Linked DNA regions of Homo sapiens. The protein of the gene in region 1 purifies or fractionates together with the protein of each later gene. This does not show direct contact. Each region holds a gene or a part of one and is shown on either strand. Other genes may lie near its edges.

Region 1 (5,050 bases):
AGGGAAAATGACTCCTGCCCTGATAATAGGGCTTGAGAGTTGTGAAACTAATGTCTATGGTTGAAGTCACAGGATCAGTGAAAAATATCTTAGAGTAATAAATCTAAGGGAAATGAAGTCTGAGGACAGAGTGCTGGGGAACAGCAGTATTTAAAGAAAAGACCAGAAGAAGCGTCCTCTAATGAAACTGAGGAGACATGGCCACTAAGGCAAAAATGACTCCCAGGAAAATATAAGGACCATTTTTTCTCAGACCTACGATCTCAGAGCCAGAAAAAATGGCTAGCACAACAGCATCTAAAAGTATCTATTAAATGAATGAATGAACTGCTTCTGAAAATAGTGATAAACCCCAGTGCTTAATATTTCCACATATGTGTGATTCCCGATATGTGGCCCCCTCAAATTATAAGTTAAATTCATGCAATCATAAAAACATATTTCAACATAGGAGGAAAACAAGCAGTTTTCTCAATAATCTGATATTTATCTTTGAGACAAGGACTTTGCTCAGATTTGGACCTAGTGATAAAAACATTTATTTTCCCAGTTGAAGTGGAGAGCAAGTAATGACCTCAAGGTCATACACTCTTTATTTTAAAAATGAGGAAGCAGCCTCTCAATTTAATGTTCTTTTTATTATAGTAAATAAACCCAATTTGCAAACCAAATACCTGATTAGGGGTTAATATTCAAAATATATAAAGAACTCCTACAACTCAGTAGCAAAAACACAAATAACTCAATTTAAAAAGGGACAAAGGACTTGAATAGAGATTTCTCCAAACAAAACATACAAATGGCCAACAAATATAAAAAGATGCTCAACATTACTAATCACATAAATGTGAATCAAAATCATCAAAATCACAGTGAGATATAACCTCATAGCTATGAAAATACTTATTATAAAAAACAATAGCAAGTGTTGACAAGAATGAGAAGAAATTGGACCTATTGTACACAGTTGGAGAGAATGTAAAATCATGCAACCACTGTGAAAAACAGCACATCCACTCTGAGTATATATCCAAAGGAAAGGAAATCAGTTAGTCAAAGAGGTATCTGCACTTCCATATTCATTGCAGAATTAGTCACAATAGCCAACATATGGAAACAACCTAAATGTCCATCAACAAATGAATGCATAAAGAAAGCACAAGACATACATGTAATAGAATACTATTCAACCTTAAAAGCAGTAATATTCTGACACATGCTACAACATGGATGAACCTGAAATGAAATACTTCATGATTCCACTTATATGTGAAGTATCTCTTAGCCAAACTCATAGAAACAGAAACTAGAATGGTGATTGCAACAGACTAGGGAGAGGGAAAAATGGGGGAGATGCTGTTAAACAGGTATAAAGTTTCAGTTACTAAAGAAGAATTAGTTCCAGAGATCTGATATACAACATTTTACTTATAGTTAACAATACTGTATTGTGCTATTAAAAGTTAGAGTAAATCTCATGTTAAGTGTTCTTTTCTTTCTTTCTTTCTTTCTGTCTTTTTTTTTTTTTTTTTTTTTTGAGATAGGGTCTTGCTCTGTTGCCCAGGCTGGAGTGCAGTGGCGCAATCACTGCTCACTGTAGCCTCAAACTTCCAGGCTCCAGTGATCCTCCTGCCTCAGCTCGCCAAGTAAAGAACCTGTAAAGTAGCTGAGACTACAGGCACACACCATCATGCCTGGATAATTTTTTTTTATTTTTTGTAGAGATGGGGTTTCACCATGTTGCCCAGGCTGGTCTTGAACTATTGAACTCAAGGAATACACCTGCCTTGGCCTCCAAAGTGCTGGGATTACAAGTGTGATTTTATCACAATAAAAATAAATAGAATAGCTATATTGTAAACAGCAAAAATAAAAATAAAACATAAAAGAAAAACCCAACAGATTAAGTACTTGGCTATATTTCTCTCTAATAAAATTAGTGGTAATGTATTTAATGCCTTCTACGTGCCAAACAATTTACTTCACTGAATCTGAGTCCCCCTTTCCACTGTACATAGCTCATAGAATCTTTCTTCAACTCCTGCAATCAAAGGGAAACGTAATAGGATTCTTGTAACAGAGGGAACTCTATTAGCAAACATGGGTCCAAGAACAGCTCCCCCCACCACCACCACCACCACCCGCCCCCACCATCCCTGCTCCTGGAGCTGGAGTGCAATGGCACAATCACCTACTCCTCCCAGGTTCAAGCAATTCCCTTGCCTCAGCCTCCCGAGTAGCTAGGACTACAGGTACATGCCACCACACCCAGCTAATTTTTTGTATTTTAGTAGAGATGGGGTTTCACCATGTTGGCCAGGATGGTCTCGATCTCCTGACCTCGTGATCTGCCCACTTCAGCCTCCCAAAGTGCTGGGATTACAGGCGTGAGCCACTGCTCCCGGCCAATAATAGCTTTTTAAAAAAAATTCTGTGATTCTTAAACCAGTCTTGAGTTGTCCTGCGCTAAAACTAATGAGCAAATATTAAACTCTTCTTAAACAGTTCTCTTTAAGTGTCTCTTTCTCCCCCACTGAGAATTCTTCCATGACAGAGCCTATAACTTAAACATCCCTATTACCAGACTACCAGGAACATCTAAATAGACAGCCCTCACAACAAAGCTTCACATTCATTACTATCACAACACCATTATTGGGTATTAATAACTCCCCTTTATGGGTGAGAAAGCAGGGTAAGATTAGATAATCGAGTCTCAGAGGAAACATACGACGTTCTCAAATTCACCCAACAAGCCAATGGCAGATTCAGGAATTGAGCTCTGTTCTTACTCCAAACGCCATGCTCTCGCAAACTCCTTATTTAAATTTTTTTTTCTTTTTTTACTGTGGCATGAACAAACACATGCTGATGACTGTAGTCTATATTTGGAATAACTATTTTGAACGCTACAACGATATTTTTGAGTTGACATAACGTATGAAAATACACTACTGAGTTCATGCTCACATTTACTCTGAATACTTCCGCGTTTGTTTCATATACTATCTGAAGGTTATACAGTACCTAATTTATTTATAACTGTCTTCAATGCACTACAACACTGACCTTGTGCACAGAATTCTTGGGTCTGGAAGGTGAGGTTATTTGATCCTGCCCCCTGCTATTTGAAGGATCATCCCACACAGCAGAGAATCTATTAATGCAAAGCAAGTGAGAGAGAGTTATCTCAACCTCACTAACTTACTTGCAGAAAGGTTCTGTACTACTATAGCTGCGGAATCAGCCCCTGATCAGCCCTGCCCCTGGACAAAGAGGTCCTCTTCTGCCAGGAGAAAACATAGGGAAAAAATTCAGGAATAGGAGAACTACCAGATTTGAGAAAAACAGCCTTTATAAGGAGCCTAGAAGTCACCTGGTGAGAGTCATTTACCCAGCAGAAAAGCAAATTCCTAGGGGAGAACTCCCTACAGCTGTGTCCTGTTAACCCTTTGTGCTCCAAATAACAAATTGTAAAAGGCAACATATTTTCAGTCTATCTTCACTCTTTCTTCCCCAAAAGATAATTCTATAGATGAACTGCAATTTCAATTCTCATTCAAGAGCAATTTGAGCCCTAAACAGCTGTAGGACAACTTTGCATAGAGCCAGAGTAAGGAAGAAGTGTTGTTGTTAACGGATCATTAACAGCTGAGTTTGCTCAGCTGCCATTTGCCGGTTTCACAGCAATCACGAGACACGGAACCCAAATAGGAAAGGGGTTGCTGAGTTACTACATTCACTGAAGGTAGTGCAGTGGTTTTCTGATTGAGGGCCCAGGCCCTCCCCTGAATTTCCTGGGAGCTGTTGCTAACCTGTGCATAGTCACAGAAAATGACAACTTAAGAGGAAGTGACTAAAGGAAGACTACAAAACTTTATGAGTCCCTTGTGTGTCCCTTGCTAGCTTACAGAGATACTAGTCTGCTCTGTCCTAAAACTGCTACCAGCATGTTTACCACTGTGGTGGAGAATTAACCATGTTTGACAGACAGCTTCTATTTAAGCTGTGGACACTCATAAATGGCTTTCAGCTTTGTCATTAATACAGCGTTTCACAATTAATGGTGAGCTTGGAAGCTTGGTAAATTTCAAGGACAACTATTTAAACATGTTTCTTGGCATAAGAGGCTGTATCAAGAGGCCATTACCTTACAAAGTCCTGCTGTATGGAAGAAGGGGACGAGTTAACTATTCCCGTTAGAGTTGCTACAGAGCAGAAAATTTAATTATCCTGTTTAATTTTTTTCTTCTTCTCATGTCACAAGATTCTAGATCCCTAGGAAAATCTGGAAAGATGCATTTTTTCCCAGAAGTTCATAAAGAACCTGAGAAAATATGCTCTCTTTTTAGGTATTTTCTGGACTAATAGAAGCATAATCTTCCCCCATAAATACCTCAATGGGTTAGGGGGGAAATCTTAACAGTCCCAGATAAATGTGCCACATAATGTATGAGACTCCGTGGGAAAAAATGCACAATTTAAATAGAAGCTTTCAAGATACAGAAGCAAAAACAGACGTCCAGGCTGTTACAGGGAAATAAATGTGAAAATCTTACTATCCATGCTAGGAATTCCAGTCTGAGGGGCACTGGTTCATGCTCACAGACACAAGTGCAGGCTGATCTTCTACACACAGCTGCAGAAAATGGAACACAGAAGAGCTTCGGACTCTTTTTTAGTGCACACTCCAGACATTTAAACCATTCACCAGCCAAGGCTTAACAATCAGTGGATACAAGAAGGGCATAATGATCAATGCTCATTTTGACTGGTTGTCTATTCTAATTGTACTGTCCCAGGACTTAAGTATGTTACACACTTGCCTACATCTACCTGTCCATTAAGAGTCAACATAGCATTGGTTCAACTGAAAGTATTTGGAACCAGACAACCTTGGTCCAACCAGACAACCAGACAACCTTGGTCCAAAGCTCAGCTCTGTCACCAATCGTGTGACCTTAGACTACATCACCTCTGTTTTTTGCTTTTAATGTGGAGAAAATCGTTATACTGCTTTATAAGTCTATGTTGTAAAATAAGATAACCC
Region 2 (4,441 bases), on another chromosome or scaffold:
CACTATAACCTCCACCTCCCAAGTTCAAGTGATTCTCCTGCCTCGGCCTCCTGAGTAGCTAGGACTACAGGCGTGCACCACCACGCCTGGTTAATTTTTATAGTTTTAGTAGAGATAGGGTTTCACCATGTTGGCCAGGCTGGTCTCAAACTCCTGACCTCGTGATCTGCCCACCTTGGCCTCCCAAAGTGCAGGGATTACAGGCGTGAGCCACTGCGCCTGGCCAGTTCATGGCTTTTTGATGTTGCTTAAAGCTCCTAACCCTTTTTTTCCCAAATAGTTGCTTGGAATGATTTGATACATGGAAGCTCTTCTGTTATCTTGGTATATCATAATTTATTCAAATCTTTTTTATTATTGGGCAAAAAAATAAAATTTCAAATATAAAGTCTTATATTTGTTTCCTTTTGAAACCTCATTGAGGAGAAGCTGGACATCAGCTCATGAGTGCTGCATGAAACACTTGCAGTGATTTTGGTAAAAAGAACTCACATTTTTATGTACCCTCTCTTCCAAAAAAGAAAAAAAACCCTGAAGTTTAAAAAGTCTTTATTCGGCTGGACATGGTGGCTCACACCTGTAATCCCAGCACTTTGGGAGGGCGCGGTGGGTGGATCACGAGGTCAGGAGATCGAGACCATCCTGGCCAATGTGGTGAAACTCTGTCTCTACTAAAAATACAAAAATTACCTGGGCGTGGTGGCGCAGGCCTGTAATCCCAGCTACTCAGGAGGTTGAGGCAGGAGAATCGCTTGAACCAGGGAGTCGGAGGTTGCAGTGAGCCGAGATCGCGCCACAGCACTCCAGCCTAGTGACAGAGCAAGACACCGTCTCAAAAAAAGAAAAAATTTATCCAAAAGTAAACAAGATAGCAGGTATAGGAGGGAGACATTATTAGCAAAATGTAAAACTCTTGAAGAAGAAACCGTATTGTTTTTGTAAATGCTTTTAAAAAAAATTGTTGTTACCATAATGTTAGAAAGAGGCTGAACAGGCTGGACGTGGTGGTTCACGCCTGTAGTCCCAGCACTTTGGGAGGCTGGGGTGGGCAGATCACCTGAGGTCAGGAGTTCGAGACCAGCTTGACCAACATGGAGAAACCCTGTCTCTACTAAAAATGCAGAATTAGCCGGATGTGGTGTCGCATGCCTGTAATCCCAGCTCCTCGGGAGGCTGAGGCAGGAGAATCGCTTGAACCTGGGAGGCGGAGGTCACGATGAGCCGAGATAGCGCCACTGCACTCCAGCCTGGGCAACAAGAGCGAGACTCCGTCTCAAAAAAAAAAAAAAAGGCAGGGGGTGGGGGAAGAGGGTGAACAAGGGGACAGTAAATCTGTAGGTGAATAATAATCTAAACCATTCGAGCCTTTTAAAATGTCAGAATTTCCTCATCTTTATCTTTACAGATGTAAAGAAAAGTTCTACCCACCTGACCTGCCAGCTGCTAGTGTTGTTATCTGTTTCTATAATGAAGCGTTTTCTGCCTTGCTTCGGACAGTGCACAGTGTCATAGACCGCACGCCAGCACACCTGCTTCATGAGATCATCCTTGTGGATGATGATAGTGACTTTGGTAAGGAATGCTGCACCTGGTAACATTGGATCCAGGCTGTCAGTCACTACAGCACTGACAAACACTAACACAGCTGAACTTTCAAGTACGTGGTAGGTGGGGATCCTACACGTGCAGTCACAGCTGGGCTGACCACAAATAAGTCTGAAGAAATCCATTATCTTTGTAACCTGCTTATAAACTATGCTACCCAAATTTGGGCCGTGAAATTTTTTCCGTGGCTTACTTTAAAAAACACACCTCTTTTTATTTGAAATAACTGTAGGTTCACAGGAAGTTACAAAGACGGCCTATGTACCTTTATCCAGTTGCTCCATCATAAAATTCCCCTGTCAGAACCAGGAATCCACATTGGTACAGTGTGTGTGGTCCAGGGTCATTCTGTCACACAGGTGGACTCCCACAACCCTCACTGCAATGATACAGAACTGTTTCCTCACCCGGAGGGCCCTTGTGCTGCCTCTTTCTAGTCACACCTCCTGCTTTCCTCTACTCTTCCCCAGTCCCTGAAACCACGACTCTATGATTTTGTTTCCATCTCTGATTTTGTTATTTCAAGAATGTCATATAAATGGAATCACACGGTATGTGACCTTTTGAGATGGGCTTTTTTCATTTGGCATGATGCCTTGGCTTATGCTTCTCTATTAAGTCTCTTACACTGATCGTCCCCAGATAAAAGTGGATTGCATTCTGATAGCTCCTCAATGATCTCTGAATGCCAGTATTTTATGATTCACTACATATTCTATATTCTGTACGCCTTTCTTAATTCAACATAGACTCTTGCTAAGAATGGCTTTGTGTACCCAAACAGGATAGAAGGCTTTTTATTACACTGCTCATTCAGCTCTCAGTGACCTTGCAAGAAAGGCTGGAAGCCCATTTTATAGAGGGAGAAATATAAAAAGTAATTTGCTCAGACCCCATAGCTGTTAAGTAGTAGAGTGGAAATGAGACCTCTGGTCTGCATAGCTCCAAGCCTTCTGCTCTTTTCATGACAGCAGGCTGCAGGAACACAGTGGTACAGGTGTATGCCAGTGACTTTTTCATGCACTCGAGCGTTTATTAAGTACCACTTGTATCAACATCAGAGTTGGTATACCAGTATACTTAAATATAGAAGGTAAAGAAATGGAGAGAGTCATGGGAGCAAAATTCTCAAACCTTGGCCAAAAACAAACAAACAAAAAACCTAATAAATAAATCTGAGTCTGGACCACGTAGAAGATTGGTTACATACTGATTTCTAGAATTTATGGTTGGTTTTTGTTTTTTTTTAAGTCAACTTGTATTTTGGTTTTCACTTTGTGGCTATTTTACCTAAAAGGAAAAATTCATAATTTGAGGTGGTTTGTATATTAACTATGGAAAGAATTACTGCTTATTATCTTACACGATCTTTCAAGTTATTCTGAAATATACAGGTGAATGACATAGAATTCCTTAAAAAATATTTAGCAACCTTGGAAGAAAGATGCTAAATTAATAAAAGGACATATTCAATGCTGTTCTTGTTATTCTTGGTAGGGGCAATAGAAGTTGTTTCTTAACTATTTTGAAATGGACTAAGACTTAATAAATTCCTTTGTAATAAAAGGCATTTATATCTCATTTTCTTTGTTATCAATGTGATTTATATATGGTCAGCTGAACATTTATGCACTCAAAATACTCATTTCAAACATTCTTTGTGCAAAGCATTGTGCTCGATGCTATGGAGATACAAATAAGTCTGTAACTAAAGTAAGTATTCCTCTTTGCTAGTATTCCAGCTCTTACCCTTCATTTCTTTTTCTTCCTACAGGATAAGCTACAATACTCTTTTAAAGTAAAATATTCTGTAGTATTTGCTTGATAGTTTGTTGTAAATTTTAGCAAGTACTAGATACAACTTTAGAATAGCTGTAAAGTGTCTTTATATATGTCTCATACAGTTTGAATAATTGTGGGACTTTATTTTCAGATGATTTGAAAGGAGAACTAGATGAATATGTCCAAAAATACCTCCCTGGAAAAATTAAAGTCATAAGAAATACAAAGCGTGAGGGGTTGATTCGAGGGAGAATGATTGGCGCGGCCCACGCGACAGGTATCACTTCTCGTTAGCTTTGCTCTACAGGTGTTGGATGACAAGGGCTCGAGCCTCAGCGCCTGTCCTGATTCTGCAAAGTCTATGAAGAGTAGTGTTTCAAACGGACATTGCCAGCAGGAGAGATGAGGCTTGTTCTGTTTGGGAAAGACCTGTTCATAACGCCAAGCCTGCCATCCCAAAGCACATAGTGCAGGGGGCTGAACTCTCAAATCCTCAGTGTCTATTTTCATAGCAACCCTTCTTTGATACTTACTGCCCCTCAAATATATTTTATATCTTATTCACTTATATAAGCAGAAAAGCCCAGACCAAAATGTAACTGAATTTTTATGTTTTTAAATACAAAATTTAAAATGTATGAACCCAAACTGTCGATTGGAACTATGCTTTTAACTCTTAGTGCGGAGTGCATCCCTCTGGAGCCACACATCATGACTTTAATTGGTTAATGGACGTAAGATTGACTTACAAAACTATAAATGGCATTTTCTTTAAAATTCCCTCTTAATCCTTCTGATTCCATCAAGGAGCAAGTCTCCGTTGTTACTAGTATATTTCCATCATACACTGCTCTCCCCCTTTAAAAAGAAATAACCGATCTCAAATTCAGTCTTCTGCAGAAAATATATCTGGTTAGTCTTCAGTTACGTTATATTGATTCTGTTGTATTTCGTTTTATGGTTACCTATGTGTAATTGGTCTCCCTGAGTTTCATTTATGACTGTAATTAAAACATTTTTAAATAAATGTAATTAAAACTAATGAATCTGTTTA
Region 3 (4,441 bases), on another chromosome or scaffold:
ATCCCAGACATTATAATATATTATCCCTATTTTGATGATGGATAAATAAGTGTCCAGCCATTCTAGTGCCGTTACTTACTTAGTACAGAATCCAAAACTCCAACCACCCAGTAAATACTTATTGAGTACTTGTTCTGTGACACGTACTAGTCTAGGCTCAGCATATATAAAACACAACATAAACTTTTGGAGAAATTCACATTAGGTACTAGCTAGTTACGTAAGGCATGGTTACTCACTTCTACTTAAAAATTGCTAATTGCTTTCCATCATATTACTCGAGCTTTATTACCAAAAAAAAAAAAAAAAAAGAAGAAAGGAAAAGCCCACAGTAATCTGCTGGTCCTACTTCCTTTGCCTTACTGACTTAACCTTCCACTCACAACATGGCTTATCCCACCCAACCACAGTGGCCTCCTAGCTGTTACTTATTCCCTTTATGTTTACATCTCAAAATCTTTGTACTTAACATTCCCTTGGTCACACCTCTCCTTCAGATATTTGCATAACATATTACCTCACCTCTTTAAAATCTTCTCTGCCCTCATCTGCTTTCCAGCCTCTACATATTTTCCATATTCACATTTTTCACTAGTATTTAAGGGGTGGGAATTTCAAGGATCCTCTTGTTCTCTTCTGTATTAAGAATTAATATAGAATTTAGTGGTGGGAAGATAACTTAGCCTTTTGAAAATATCATTACTTATCAGCCTTTCAATGTATATCAATTATTTCCAAAAGAATGCTGAAATAATAGTTATTGTGATATTCTTTTCTTCTTGATATAATTTGTCATCACAAGAATGTAGGTGTATGCTTTTGTGATCATTTGTGTTTTGTACAAATGCCACCATGCCGCTTGGCTGTAGAACTATGATTTTGAAGAACTAGCAGCTAAAAGTTTTGATTACTGCAGATCTTACACTTTAATACTGTGTATGCCTCTGCTGAGTAATTCACTGAATTAGCATTTCTCCTCTTGCAGCAAGTTAAGATAAGCTTTTTGTGAGTCTGTGTCTTTTAAAATCTTGCCCTAGGTTATGCTTTGTCTACTTTATTTGTATCTGTTTCACTAAGATACAGTTTTTCAAAATACTACCTTGTTCTAGCAAGAGCTCAGTGAGGTTGGCATTCTCTTTCACTGCTTGGGTAAGTGTATAACTCTTTCTGGGAACATATATTAAGAAATTTATATATTTACATCCTCTGATTTCATATGTAGGAATCTAACTCAAGGAAATTTTTGTATGTTGATGTGTATATATAAATGTCTTTTGGTGGTAGAAATTATGAGGGTTTTCAGCTTCTCATTCTTTTCTATTTCTTCCACACTTCTTTAATGATCATCTCTTACTTTCTTACTTTTCTTTCTACTTACCTCCCCTCTTTTTCTCTGTTCCTCCCAGTACTTCATTGCTTGATTTCTCTGAGTATTAAAATGGTAGGCCAGGCGTGGTGGTTCATGCCTGTAATCCCAGCACTCTGAGAGCCAAAGCCAGAGGATCACTTGAGGCCAGGAGTTTGACACCAGCCTGGTCAACATTGTGAGATCCTGTCTCTACAAGGAAGAAAATATTGGGCAGGCATTGGTAGCTCATGCCTGTAGTCTCAGCTACTTATTAGACTGAGGTGAGAAGATGGTTTGAGCCCAGAAGTTTGAGGTTACAGTGAGCTATGATCATGCCACTGTAATCCAGCATGTGTAACACAGCAAGATCCTATCTCTTAAGAAAAAAAAAAAAAAAAAAAGATTAAATACAATCATGTATGAGGTTGGGGGGTTATATGGGAAATATCCGTATCTTTAGCTCAACTTTGCTGTGAACCTAAAACTGCTGTTAAAAAAAAAAAGAAGAAAAAAAGAAAAAAATACCTTTAGAGACATGGAGACAGACAGAGTGAGTGAGTCGTAGCTTCCAAAGAAGAGACTAAGATTTTGAGGAGATAATATCTGGTTCATATTAGGAACTCAGTAAATATTTTTGAATCATTGTATTGTTTTACTAAGCAAATGTTCCTATTTGAATGAAAAAGTAGGCTGTTGTAATTTGACTATGTCATACCACTTAAGAATCATGAAAACTACTCAGGTATCTAAGAAAGATGATGTATTTCTCTGGATAAATGAATTTTTTTTAGGACTGAAAGCATTTTTTCTATTAAGTGTGCATGTTTATGCCTAGCATTTATATGAAGCTACTAAATAAACTCTTTTAAAGAATCCTAATGTCATCCCCCAATGAATAGATTTGTCGCTGCTCTTCAGTGTACTTTTGCTATTAGCATATGTAGTTAGTTGTTTATTTCTTTTATTGCAAGAAGATGGCATTACTAAATTTCTGTAGATATTTTTTAAAGTATCTTATTCCTAAGAACTTCATTCTTACTTGTTCAATAATTGTTTGAATTGCCTTTTTGCTTTAAAGTATTATATTTTATCTTATAAATTACCATAGTATCCAAAATGGTTGTGCCCACGTCTGTTTTTCCACTGCATGGAATGAAGTGGTTTAAATCTATTTTCTTTCTCCTATAGTGGTTCCCCCTGGAAGTCCTGGGCCCATTACTCGACATGGGTCTTACGACAGTTTAGCTTCTGACCATAGTGGACAGGAAGATGAAGAATGGCTTTCCCAGGTAAAACTCTGAAATATTGAGAGTATTAAAGTAAAATAAAACAGAAATTTACTGTTTTTATTCTTTTCCTTAGAGGTAAAAGGGGAGAATTGGTAACTCTTTATTGGATTATCAAGAATTAGTTGTCTTTCCATATTACAAATTACTCCACAAATATTGCTGCAGGTGTACATATACATATTATATATACATTATACGTGTGTGTATATATATATATGTTAGCTTCCATAAACATGGCATAAAATTTGTGTATTTTTCACACAATCCATTTAAAGCCTTAGGGCCTTGGAATCAATTAATTTATTAATTTTTGAGACAGAGTCTTGCTCTGTCACCCAAGCTGGAGTGCAGTGACACGACCTTGGCTCACTGCAACCTCCAATTCCTGGTTTCAAGCGATTCTCATGCCTCAGCTTCTTGAGTAGCTGGGATTACAGGCATGCACCACCATGCCTGGCTAATTTTTGTATTTTTAGTAGAGAAGGGGTTTCGCCATGTTGGCCAGGTTGGTCTTGAACTCCTGACTTCAAGCAATCCACCCTTCTTGGCCTCCCAAAGTGCTGGGATTACAGACGTGAGCCACTGTGGCCAGCCAGGAGCTTGGAATTTAAATAGGCTCTTTGGAACACATTTTCATCAGGTTTAAAATAAAAGTTGACCTTGATGAAACAGTGAAGCCACTCAGCAATCTTTGGGATTTGTTTTGTGGAGCCAACATTTTCCGAAGATTGAGTTCATACTTTCATTATTGGAAATATAACATTCCACCCTGCAGAAATTCTGATGGTGCCTTGGTTTCCTTTCCTAAGCCCATGTAATGCTGCTTTTAGTGGTCTCTAAGCCAGCCCTACAACATTGCTGGGACTGCAGGCACGCATCACCATGCTGGCTAATTTGTTTTTTTTGTTTGTTTTTTAATGTAGAGACAGGATCTCCCTATGTTGCTTAGGCTGGTCTTGAACTCCTGGGCTCAAGCAATCCTCCTGTGTTGGCCTCCCAAAGTGCTGGGATTACAGGCAAGAGCCACCATGCCCAGTCTCCAACAGCTTCACTGACCATCCCTCCCCTTGCCAGGTGAAGCTGTCTTCATCTCAAGGGCTTTGAAATAAAAGATACTTGGGCAGATGTCAAAATGATGGGATTACAAATGACTTCATTACAAATGCTGTTATGTCTGCCTCAAGTCTGACATCATTTTATGAAGCTAATGACCTATCTCAGGTTACCAATCTGACAGCTTTTCATCGGACAGGTGCCTCAAAAATGTGGAGGCCATTTGTAGTTTCATTTCTTTCTCAAGGAGGGTAGCCTGAAAACTAAAGTCTGGAAAATCAAAAGTAAAGTAAACTGGAAAATCAAGCAGTGTCTAGGTAACATGTATTTATTTCATCACACCAAAAATATTCACAGGAAGTTCCTTGAAGGAAGTTGATTCTTCAGTTCCTGGCATGTGGCGGTCCATCCTTTCTTAATGTTAGGAAGATAAAGTAAACCCCAAATGTGTGTTTTTTCCAAAATCAAAATGTTGTCCAAGGAATGCTGGCAGAGAAACCACTGTCCTTCACTTCAACTTTTCAATTAGAAAAAGGGGTAATGTGTGCTGTCAGTGTGAAAGTATATACAATGTGTTTGTCCGGCACACAACAGGAGAGTGAATAGGAACATCTGGCCATCGCCTCGGTGAAATTGAACAGGCATCTGTTTACCTCTGGGCTCTGTGACACTGATGGTTTTGAGCTTAAAGTACACAGAATGCTTTATCTGTGGCCTAATTTACATTGCTGAATACAACTACTTGAATCAG
Region 4 (4,985 bases), on another chromosome or scaffold:
GCACACATGTGTGTGTGTAACTGGAGAGAGAACAGGTGGCCTGAGACTGTAGCTAAAGGAGGAGAGATGCAGTGGGTTCGGCCCCCAGAAGACCAGGACCCTGGTAATGGGCTTCTGTCCTGGACAGCCTACGCCTAGGTGTGCCCACTGTTCCCACCTACTACTGAAGCAGCCCCCGTGCCTGGAACGTGGGCTCAGGGTTCTGGCTCAAGGCCTTTTGGCCTTGAGCCTGAACATTTCTGCCCCTTCCTGCCTCTCTCCTCTCCACCCCCACCCCGGCACCCAGGTTCCTGCCTCCTGGCTTCTGCCTGTCTCCCTGGGTGTCTCTGAATCTGCCTCGTCCTCTCAGCACCGGTCCTTTTCCTGACTCGTGTGTGTGGCTGTCACGTCCCATATCTATCTGTCCATTTCTTTGTATGTGCCCCCACTTGTCTTCTGGGCTGCCAGTGACAGCATACACCTGTGTATGTCTCAGTGTGTGTGTCCACCTCTGTGGGTGTTTGCTCTCTGCCAAGACAAAGAGAGGGTGAGCGCACTGAGCAACTGTCTGGGTGTGCTCGTCTGGGTGCAGGTGTGCTCACCTCTGTTGCTGTGCTCCTCTGTGTGTTGGGGTGCCGCTAGGTGTGCGCCTGTCTCTGTATTTCGCTCTGTGTGCCCTGTCCCCGTGAAGGCATCTGCGTGCATCCCTGGGGTGGGCTCTCAAGGGATGTGTCTGTCTCTCAGTCTCTTTGCTTGTCCCTATCTCTGTCTAGGTGTTGGTCATACCACAACCTCAGCCACAGCCTCAGTGCATAGCAACAGCTGACAGCTGAAACCACCCGGGCAGGAGAGAGAGAGGCAGTGGGGAGGAGGGAACCGAGGAAGAAACAGAGAAGAGGATGGGGGCAGAGAGCTGGGGCTGGGGACAGAGACAAGGACAGAGATAGGGAATGGGGACAAGGATCTAGAAGAGCTGGTGGTGAAAGATGGGACGGCGGGAGGGGAGGAACAGAGACTGCACCAAGAGGCCAGGCAGGCGGCGCTGAGAGGGATTTCCTGCCCAGCCCCCATGCAGAGGCGCACTGGGCCTCGTGGGGGTCAGTGGTGGGGGCCAGGGGCAAAGGTGAACAGCCGGTCTAGCCGAGGGGTCCTGAGACCGCAGAGGTGCGGTGAGGCGGGGACGGGGCGGAGGGCGCCGTTTGTCAGCCCTATTGACAGACGTGATGGGGTTTCCGTCCGTGATCAATGATTCTCATCTCCGGGCCGAATGAGCCGCGGGGCGCCCATCCATCCCCGTCAGCATCGCGCGGCGGCAGCCGCCCGAGGCCCCGCCCGTCCCCACCTCGGCCCCTGCCCTGCGCCTGCCCCGACACACCTTGGCCCTGAACAGGGCAGAGGCCCGGGGCTTGGAGAGCGTCGTCCGGCTGGGCTCCGCGGCGCCCCCACTCCAGGTGCACGGGCCCGGAGCCCAGAGCCCCACGCCCTGCCCCGTTCCTCCTGGGCGCACAGACGCGGCCTCTCGGGGGACCAGTGCCTGAGCCCCTCGACCCCCTCCGCTTCGCACCTGGGCCAGGGGCGTGTCCGGGGCGTGCCGGTGTGAAAGTCACCTTCGGTGCCCCCAGCTGGGCGGGAGGGGGCGCGCGGGGCGCGGCCGGGATTGGAGCGCCGCGGAGCCCCGCCCCCCGCCCGCGGAGTCAGACCCAACTTTCTCCCCCGCCCGCGCCCCGCCCCCAGCGCCGGCTCCGCGCCTCGCGCCCAGTCCGCGGGCCGCGCCGCCGCTCCCGCCGCTCCCGCCGCTCCCGCCGCTCCCGCAGCCGCCCCGCCGCCCGCCCGGAGCCCCGCGTCCCTAGGCCTGGCTCCCGCCTGCCCGAGACCCGCCCAGCCTGCCCCGCTCAGCCGCCAGAGAAGATGCGGCTGCTCCCGGAATGGTTCCTCTTGCTCTTTGGCCCGTGGCTCCTTAGGAAGGTAAGAGTGGCAGGGCTGGGGCGCTAGCGCGGGCGCGGGGTTCCGGGACGCGAAGGTCCCAGTGTGCGAGGGGCTCCGTGCGCCCGCCCCGCCCCCAGCTCCGAGCGTCCCAACTTTGCGCGGCGCGGGGGAAGCGGACAGACAGACTGCCCGATTCAGGACGGGCACTCTCCTAGCGCAAGTTGGCTGAGGCTTGGAGAGGGTGCCGGGCGGAGGTCCCCCTTGCAGCCGACTTCAGGCGCGGCGGGGGAGGGGACGAAGCCCGACCCGCGAGTGCGCCAGACAGAGCGGGAGTGCGAGACAGACAGACAAGCCAGCAGGGTGTCAGCCTTGCCGTCTTTCCGCGCCAGTCTCGCTCGCCTGCCTCACTGTCTGTCTGTCCTTCCACCCCTCCACCCCCGCCTTCCCATTTCTCTTCTCTGCACTTGTCACCATGCCAGGTGGGCTCTGTGTCGGGAGCATCCATGGCCCGAGCACACACGCACACACGGACTCAGGCAGACACGGCTGAACTTGGCTACAGCCAGCCTCCCATCACATTTCCCACGGAGACACCATCTCCCCTGCACGACCTCACAGACACACCCCCCTCTCGTGCCCCACTGAAGGGGGAGGCTGTCTGGAAGGGGAGTCTCTCCTCCCATGCCCTCCCTGCCTCCAACCCCACTCCAAGGCCTCTTTCCCTGAGGCTCTCGGGCGAAGAGCCAGAGGCTAAGGGAGCTCAGACTTGATCTGCCTCCTTCCTGACTTGGAGGCTTCAACCTGCGAACATGCTGTGCTCATATGTGCTGGGTGGAGGGCGTGGGTCACCGTGTGCACCTGTGTGCATGTGTCCAGGGAAGCCAGGCTTGGTCCAGTACTGGGGCCGAGGGTACATGTGTATACTGGTGTGGTGTGTGGTGTTGGCTTTGCATGAGTGAGTGTCAGTGCCTGCCTCACAGTGCAGCCATCTGCCTATGCCCCTGGTGTGTGCCCGCAATGGGGGCCCAGGCCCCAGTCCCCCATTTTCCTTCTACCAGCCTCCCCTGCCTATGGCTTCCCTGTTTTCTGACCCCCAACTGTGACCTACCTAGTTTGGGGGCAGGCAGGTCATTCCCCAAACCCTCATTCTCTGTACCCTCAGCCCCTGTAGAGTCTAGAAGGGGTGTATTTCTTCCCCCAACACTTGGACCTCTGCCTGCTCAGCCAAATCACATTTGGCAAACCCCAGCAGGGCAGGGGCTGCCCCAGTGAAGCTAGCATTAGAGCTCCCTGGCCCTCCCAGCCCCACCTGGTGACCTTGAGGGGCTGCACGGTAGGCAGAGGAGCCCCTCCATGAAAACTGCTTCCACTAGCAGGAGCTTCTTAGGGACTTGCTGCCCAACTCTGTCCTTAGTGAACTGGAGGAGTGGGGGGGGTCTGTGCCCTACCACCCACCCACCCATGTGTGAAGGCCTGGGGTCAAGAGGTGGTAGGTATGGCATTCTCTTGCCCCTCCTTTCCACTTCCTCCCACCTCATCTCCACTCTCCCAGGCAAATAAACTCCCCTGTGGACAGATCTGGTTTAATTTCCTTTGCCCCCTGAGGGGGAATGAAACATCTGGTGGAGACTTGAGTGAGAGTGAGCGTGAGGATATGAGCAATGGGATCTATCTGAGTGTGTGTGTGTGAGCTGCAGCTGTGGGGCCTCCGTGTTGGAGTCAACAGGGAGAGTGGATCTGCTGGTTAGCCCAGCTTATGTGCATGTGAGAATGTGTTTACATGTGTACACACTGCGGGTGTGTGAATATGTATAACTGCACGGGGAGGTGTGGGTATATGAGTGTTTGTGTGTCCAAATACCTGTGTGTGCTTCTGTGCACTTGTGAGTGTGGCGTATGCACATGTATACCCCGGGGTTTCTGGTGCATCTGTGTGCTGGGGCCCATGTGTTGTCTGTATGAGTCTCTGGGGTTTGTGAGTGTGTTTCTGTGTGCTTGTGATTGTGAGTGCATTTGAGTGTGCTATGAGATTGTGAGCCTCAGGATGTGTTTATGTATCTGAGTGTGGCTTATGTGTGTGGGTGCTCAAGGGTGTCTTGGTGCCAGCACTGGGAGTGGGCAAAAGGTGAGGCTGATCCTGGGTAAGAGGTGGCTAGGGGACAGTTTACAGGGCAACTTTTTGGCAACCCTAACCATGAACGGCTGACACCTCTGCCTCTCCCGTCCTGCTTGCTCACCCTCCTCCAGGTTTCTCTCCCTTCCTCCTCACTCCAGGCTTCCCATTTCTCAGAGCCTGGGACTCCTGGCTTCCACTGCCTCTGGGGTTCTGGCCTCTCAGCCAGGGATTCTTGAGGATCTTTCTCATACAGTCTCTGACTCCTTTCCCTCTCTCTCTGTCTCCCCGACCCCTTGCCAAAGCAGCTGCCTACTGGGAGAAGCAGCAGGCGATCAATAGTCACTAATCACTAATCACTAATTACTAATTAGCTGGGGGAGGGCAGGGGCGGGGCCCTGTGGGACCTGCCAGCTCTATCCCGCCTCAGGAAAGGATTAGGTCTGATTCTCTTAGAGCTGGCTGGCCGAAGCCCCTCAGCCAGCTACCCCCTCCTGCCTCCACACCCTCCTCTAGCCCCCCAGCTAATCTCTGCCTGGGCCACTTAGGCACGCACAGCCTGGGCTAGGGCCCAGAGCTGCTGCCGGGGATTTGGGGGTAATCAGGGGCCGCAGCTGGGCCAGGGGGACAGGGGAGGGCCTGCTGTGACAGCTCCCTTGGGCCAGAGCCTGCAGTGGAAGCCTCACATTCCTAATAGGAGGGGCATGCGTCAGAAAGGAGAATTTAGAGTGTCAGGGTTGGGATGGGTAGAGGAGCTGGAGACCCAGGAGCGGGGTGACTGGCGAAGAGGTGAGGTAATAAGGACAGAAGCAAGGCAAAGAGGGGTCAGGGACGAGGTAATTGGAGAGAGACAACACAAACGTCTAAAGAAAACAGGTAAGTGGGGGGACCTCACAGGGGTCAGAGATGGAGTAATTGGCAAGGAGATGGGGAACTTTGGACCTAGCCCTGCAACTCAAGATGTGTG

What was found. Proteins that work in one complex are often made in the same cells at the same time.
Region 2: the proteins of MMP26 (region 1) and GALNT11 purify together in Homo sapiens (affinity purification with mass spectrometry; one large-scale study listed by BioGRID and IntAct). This does not show direct contact.
Region 3: the proteins of MMP26 (region 1) and BCAS3 purify together in Homo sapiens (affinity purification with mass spectrometry; one large-scale study listed by BioGRID and IntAct). This does not show direct contact.
Region 4: the proteins of MMP26 (region 1) and NXPH4 purify together in Homo sapiens (affinity purification with mass spectrometry; one large-scale study listed by BioGRID and IntAct). This does not show direct contact.

What each region holds. Positions count from the first base shown.
Region 1 is NC_000011.10:4,703,065-4,708,114, reverse strand, and holds the start of MMP26 (matrix metalloproteinase-26 isoform 1 preproprotein), read right to left. Parts: upstream 3,332-5,050; 5' UTR 3,070-3,331; intron 1-3,069. UniProt on the Homo sapiens protein: May hydrolyze collagen type IV, fibronectin, fibrinogen, beta-casein, type I gelatin and alpha-1 proteinase inhibitor. Is also able to activate progelatinase B.
Region 2 is NC_000007.14:152,101,707-152,106,147, forward strand, and holds part of GALNT11 (polypeptide N-acetylgalactosaminyltransferase 11), read left to right. Parts: intron 1-1,405; coding exon 1,406-1,572; coding exon of another isoform or gene 1,573-1,595; exon of another isoform or gene 1,596-3,186; intron 3,187-3,538; coding exon 3,539-3,664; coding exon of another isoform or gene 3,665-3,681; exon of another isoform or gene 3,682-4,429; intron 4,430-4,441. UniProt on the Homo sapiens protein: Polypeptide N-acetylgalactosaminyltransferase that catalyzes the initiation of protein O-linked glycosylation and is involved in left/right asymmetry by mediating O-glycosylation of NOTCH1.
Region 3 is NC_000017.11:61,072,384-61,076,824, forward strand, and holds part of BCAS3 (BCAS3 microtubule associated cell migration factor), read left to right. Parts: intron 1-2,536; coding exon 2,537-2,637; intron 2,638-4,441. UniProt on the Homo sapiens protein: Plays a role in angiogenesis. Participates in the regulation of cell polarity and directional endothelial cell migration by mediating both the activation and recruitment of CDC42 and the reorganization of the actin cytoskeleton at the cell leading edge.
Region 4 is NC_000012.12:57,215,083-57,220,067, forward strand, and holds the start of NXPH4 (neurexophilin-4 precursor), read left to right. Parts: upstream 1-1,711; 5' UTR 1,712-1,887; coding exon 1,888-1,944; intron 1,945-4,985. UniProt on the Homo sapiens protein: May be signaling molecules that resemble neuropeptides and that act by binding to alpha-neurexins and possibly other receptors.